Regions from separate parts of the Homo sapiens genome. Here region 2 is linked to region 1. The links come from fine-mapping of genetic effects on gene expression. A gene starts in region 1. The other region holds a variant in brackets. All regions are shown on one strand. Distances are between the middles of the regions.

Region 1 (2,915 bases):
GGTCAAGAGTTTGAGACCAACCTGGCCAACATGGTGAAACCCCGTCTCTCCTAAAAATACAAAAAGTAGCCGGGTGTGGTGGTGGGCACCTGTAATCCCAGCTGCTCGGGAGGCTGGGGCAGGAGATTCGCTTGAACCCGGGAGGCGGAGGTTGCAGTGAGCCGAGATCGCACCACTGCACTCCACCCTGGGCGACCTGGCAAGGCTCCGTCTCAAAAAAAAAAAAAAAAAAAGAAAAAGAAAATACCGGGCGTGGTGGCAGACGCCTGTAGTCCCAGCTACGCGGGAAGCTGAGTCACGAGAATCGCTTGAACCCGGATGGCGGAGTTTGCAATGAACCGACATCGTGCAACTGCGCTCCGGCCTGGGCGCCAAAGCGATACTCGGTCTCAAAAAGAAAAAAAAGAAAACAGGAGAATAATGAAATTTTACTTATTTATTTTATTTATTTTTTATTTTTTTGAGACCGAGTCTCGCTCTGTCACCCAGGCTGGAGTGCCCTGGCGCAATCTCGGCTCACTGCAACCTCTGCCTCCCGGGTTCAAGCGATTCTCCTGCCTCAGCCTCCCGAGTAGCTGGGACTACAGGCGCCTGCAACCACGCCCGGCTCATTTTTGTATGTTTAGTAGAGACGGGGTTTCACTATGTTGCCCGGGCTGGTCTCGAATTCCTGAGCTCAAGTGATCCTCCCGCCGCTGCTTTCCAGCGTGCTGGGATTACAGGCGTGAGCCACCGCGCTCGGCCAAAAGTTTTAAATTTCAGTAAGTTCCAATTTATCAACTTTTTCCCTGTATAGATTGGTCTTTTGGTGTCGTCTAAAAACTATTTGCCTGGCCCTAGGTCCTGAGGATTTTTTTTAACTTTTTTTTTCCCCATAAGTGATTTATTGTTTTACATTTAAATCTATGATTCATTTTGAGTAAATTTTGTATAAGGTGAGAGGTTTAGGTTGAGGTTCTTTGGGTCTATATTCGTCCAATTGCTCCAGCATCATTTGTTGAAACGGCTCCTGATTCCATTTTTGTACCTTTCCCCCGTTCATTTCCCCTTAGAGCAGTGGGAATGTTTTTTTGTTAGTGATGATGTCATGCCTTGTGCAAAATCTGTATTAGCATCTCACAACATAAGATTTGGCTCTATTCTAACGGCATTTTCCACCACTCGATGTCCACCGTAATACTTGGCTCTCGAAGAATCACTGGGCTGGCTCCCTCACTTCATGCAGGTCTATTCTATTATCACTTACTCAGAGATTTCTCTGGCCTTTTCTTCACAGCACTTACAAAATGCGATCTATTACATATTAATTTGCTTATTTGCTTCTTGTTTTCCTATACTCCCATCCCTCCCAGAAGCTCCAAGAGAGCATACTGTTTTATCCCTAGGGCCTAGAATAATGCGTCCACGTAGTAGGTACTCAAAATTTTTTGCTTGACAGGCTAGAAAAGGTGAATAAACACAAAGCGGGAGCGAAAAGTCTACTTCTAGGTCAGGCACTCTTTGGACTTCACGCAACGTGTGAGCGCCACCTCTCGGGAAGCCAATTTGCTCGCGAACGAAGGAAGTGAGTCAGAGAACCCGGGGGTGGAGAGAAGAAAGCAAGCAGCTAACCGGAAAGGTCTGAAAAAGCTAGCGCCGGAAGTTAAACTGCAGAAAGTTGTTCCCTAGAATGACTGCCTACTCCCAAGAGGAAGCGTGGGCGAGCGGTGTTCTGCAAAATGGGCTCTCCGGCAGCGGATCTGCGCAGAAGCGTTCCGTGCGTGCAAGTGCTGCGAACCACGTGGGTCCCGGGCGCGTTTCGGGTGCTGGCGGCTGCAGCCGGAGTTCAAACCTAAGCAGCTGGAAGGGTAAGAGGTGTTCGGGATCCTGAGAGGAAAAAGAAAGGAGTGTAGTCGCGGGAGTGGGTTAGGTGAGGAGTTAGTGAAGAGATGAGTTCAGCTCTAAGAGGCGGCGAGGAGGATCGGATGGGAGGAGGGGCAGGGAGCGCCTGTGGACAAGTGCAGACCGGTCGGCGCACGTCCCACGCCACGTGGACTCGCCTTTGTCGGTGGCCGCCTTTCTCGTCAGGCCGCGACGACAGGGCTGTGCCTTATTTGTGTCTGTCGAGAGCAGTGCCGGGCACGGAGTTGGCGCTCTGTAAGTGCTTGCTGAATAAATGACGGGTGTGTGTGTCATTCATTCAGCAAGCACTGAGTGCTTACTGTTGTGTCACCGGGACCGATGTGGAGGGACATTTTTAGGGTGTATTTCTGGCGCTTTAGTCCTGTTTTCTCCTGGACAATTTATGCTTGCCCCGCACCCCATCGTGCGATTCTCCGCAGTCTTTGGGCTTTGTCTCTCTCTCTTTTTTTTTTTTTGGAAGTTGCAGAATGGTGATAAATGATTTTCTTTGCTCCTATTGACTGCTAGGCCCTGTGGCTAGGTACCATAGAGTCTCTACACAGGACTAAGTCAGCCTGGTGTGCAGGGGAGGCAGACACACAAACAGAAAATTGGACTACAGTGCTAAGATGCTGTAAGAAGAGGTTAACTAAAGGACAGGAAGATGGGGCCAAGAGATGGTGCTACTGTCTACTTTAGGGATCGTCTTTCAAGGCGAGGGGCCTCCTATCTCAAGCTGTGATACAGGGTAGGTCATGAGCGCAGTCTTCTGTAAAATGAGGGATCTGGACGGAATAGTTACTCTCTAGGCTTCCTTTCAGTATGATGTCCCGTATCAGATATTCCTAATGTCTGTAGTTCTCCCACACCCCACCGTTTATTGGCTAGTCAAAATATTCTTTGCATTGTAAAGTGTAGCATAACATTACAAGAATGGATTAATGGGTTGGGAATGCTGGGTTTTGGCCTTCATTCTGGTGCTGTGGTCCTGTTTCCTCATTTGTAAAATGAAGGGGGTTGTAAAGATATATTCT
Region 2 (2,915 bases), 980 kb after region 1:
GAGCTATGTGAGTCAATTCTTCTAAAGTACTAAGCACAGTAAAGGAGAAAGGTGTGCTGTACCTGTTAACTGCTATATTATTCTGAATAATTAGAATGAAGACCAATATCTGACTTCTGGGTTTCTGACTTATATGTGGGGCACAGCAACAGGGAATGAAGGCACAGTGAACATGCAGAATTCAGCATCTTTCCTCAGGCTCTGGCCATCTGAGCACACTTGGTTTTAGTGAAGTTAGCTTATAGGCAGTTCTAGAAACAAATTTAGGGAGGATTTGGGGCCCTAAGCCTAGAGATTCCAAGGTCCTTGTATAGGTTAACACAATAGAAATGCATGTACCAGGTACAGAAGAGAGGGCCCTCATCAGGACTGGGGTACAAACTGGGGACTTGGTCCAGACACAGGTGACATCTCGTGGCTCAACCGAGGCACAGGACCACAGTGAGACAACAGCAAGGGTACCTTGGAGCAGAGCCTAATATATGGGGTGGAATTACAGGGCTTAAATCAGTGCTACCTCTTCTCAGGAGTAGCGCAGAGGACCATGGGCAGGCTGAGTATGCAGATAAGGATTATATGACTCCAAAGGTAAGGAAAAGCTGGGAGTTGGGCTGGACCTAATCCATGTTGCATGGAGCTGCTTCACTGCCCTGTCTGGGCCTCACCTTCTTGGTGAGCAAGCAATCTGGTACCATGCCCTTTGGTGAAATCAGGCATGGAACAGGTGACTGACCTTGGGGAACGAAAGCCAAGCTGCCATTCATCACAGCCCATGGTGCAAACCTCTAAGGTAAGCCTTGGAGCCTCCAGCGCCCCAGCGGTGGGGCATCCGTCCTCTGGGCAGGGAGCTTCAATTCACACAGCAGGAGAGCCATAACATAGCAGGAGACACACAGAAGGCCTTTAAATGTCTATTTTTTAAAGTGGTTAGCAAAGCAGGAGAGAAACTGTCAGAGATCCGCAATGCAGAGTTTAATCTGGAAAGTCAGTGAAGAGGTGGAAGGAAACAGAAAACAGGAGACTGGAAGAAGAGGCTTCAGGATTTGGGGAGAGCAAAGCAAAAAGTGTTAACAAGAAAAAAAAAACAGTTGCATATCAGAAACTGCTCAATTCTCATGTCAACATTTACAGAACACTGTTTTCCATTTTTCCGACTGCTCTATGCATTTGACAAATTTTTACTTGTTCTTAATTCTAGCTCAAAGTTCACCTCCTTTAGACAAAGCCATACCCTCTTCTGGCCTCTGTTTTAATAGATACAATGTTTGTAATAGCATATTTCAAAATATTGTGTAATGAATTGTGACTCTGGATATTATAGCCACTCATCATTTTCTTGAGGATATTTATCCTTATATCCCCAGGACTTAGTAAAGTTCCTGGCACATATTAGCTAATGGTCAATTAATGGTCACTTAATGAATAGAAGATTAATGAATGAAGAAGGAACCAAGGAGGGAAGATGCTTTATGACTGTACAGGGTGCATGCGAGGGGAGGCAGGAAGTGAGATCTATAAAGGTGTCTTAGCATATCATGCTGGTGATGTGAGCCAAGCTAAGCATTGCAGCTTTCATCCACTGGCAAGGTAGCATAATAAAAGGCTGTAAAGCAGAATGTTTCAAAGAGCTGTTCCCCCAGTGCCATCTTCACTCTATACGTTATTAATCTCATTTCTTCCCTACTTCGAACTAATGTGCTCACATTCAAAGATTTGGCATATATAGACCCATT[C/T]AAAACAAAATGTTTCAAGTTCTCCAGAAAATAATCCTAAACCTCAACTTCTTCAAGAAATAATCCTAAAATAACCTCCCATCAGCTTCTTTGTTACTCAGTATTTTATTCTTAACTTATTGTAACCTTGTACCTATTTATTTGTCCCTTGGGAGATGATGGTTTTCTTTAAGAGTTATGAGTGTACTTTCTAGTGCCAAACTTGGGTTCAAAGCCTAGCTCATCCACCCACAAGCTTTCTGTCTTTAACTAAATTATTTAATATCACTGAGTCTCAGTCTGTTCACCTCTATAGGCATGATAAATAATGCCTACCCACATGATTTCGGTAAGAATTGAAGGCTATTGTAAAGTTTAAACATGAACTAAACAATCAATACCAGCAGCTAGTAATAGTGGTTCTGCCAATATTAGTTAAAAATAATAATAATAGTAAGTTTGTTCTTATGCCCTGGCATACTCTCTGGGAGAAAGAATCATCTTCTCTTTCTTAGGTTATTATTTCTTTTTCTCTCCCCTCCTACAACTGCACATCTGCCTCTTCCCTTCACAGTATTTTGCAATTCTCTGTGTGACTCAAAGCAGAGCTCAGGTTATGCATGACAGCTGCCTCTTCCACTGTGCCCTGGCACCATGGATGTCACTGCCATCCTCCACCCCATGCATGAGCCAGAACCCTGGGCTCCTTCTGACTCACCATTCTCCCTCACCCCCACCATACACAGTTCATCAGGCTCTGTGAATCCACATCCTGAACGGCTCCTGATGCTGGCCATTGCTCTCCATGTGTGCCATCACCTTCAACAGGTTACCTGCATCTCCAACCCAGACTGCCACCAGAGCCTCCTGACTGCCCTCCTGAGGTCGCCTGTGAGAAATAAAAATGGAATCCTAAGCCCCCCAACTGAATGGACCCTCTATTGGCCAAGGGGACCCCAGATTAACCTTAAAAATTGAGTTCTCAGCCATGACAGGATGAGAGGTCAGACATGCCTCAGTATATCCCTCCCTCGCTAACCATGTTAGGCTTTCCTCCCTAAGGGATAAACAGAAACTAGCTCTTTGGAAAGACTCCACTTTTGATACCAACAAACCACCTGATGCTGCCCCTCCTTTTTTTGCCTGAGAAAAGACCACTGACCATGCAGTGGTTCTGGCCAGTCTATGGAGAATGTGCAGTAA

What was found. PIP is the estimated chance that this variant, and not a neighbour inherited with it, causes the effect.
Region 2: its variant is fine-mapped to the expression of NME1 in amygdala (GTEx, PIP 0.95).

What each region holds. Positions count from the first base shown.
Region 1 is chr17:51,151,816-51,154,730 of GRCh38, forward strand. NME1 (NME/NM23 nucleoside diphosphate kinase 1) reads left to right here and starts at 1,744. Exons shown (of 5, transcript NM_000269.3): 1 at 1,744-1,847. NME1-NME2 (NME1-NME2 readthrough) reads left to right here and starts at 1,744. Exons shown (of 9, transcript NR_037149.2): 1 at 1,744-1,847; 2 at 2,410-2,629. RefSeq lists enhancers at 1,057-2,256, 1,280-1,811, 1,595-2,014.
Region 2 is chr17:52,132,449-52,135,363 of GRCh38, forward strand. The region is part of intron 1 of CA10 (carbonic anhydrase 10); the gene reads right to left. Among named protein-coding and RNA genes, the nearest start is that of CA10, 25 kb to the right of the region's middle. The variant C/T (reference allele first, on the strand shown) is at 1,734.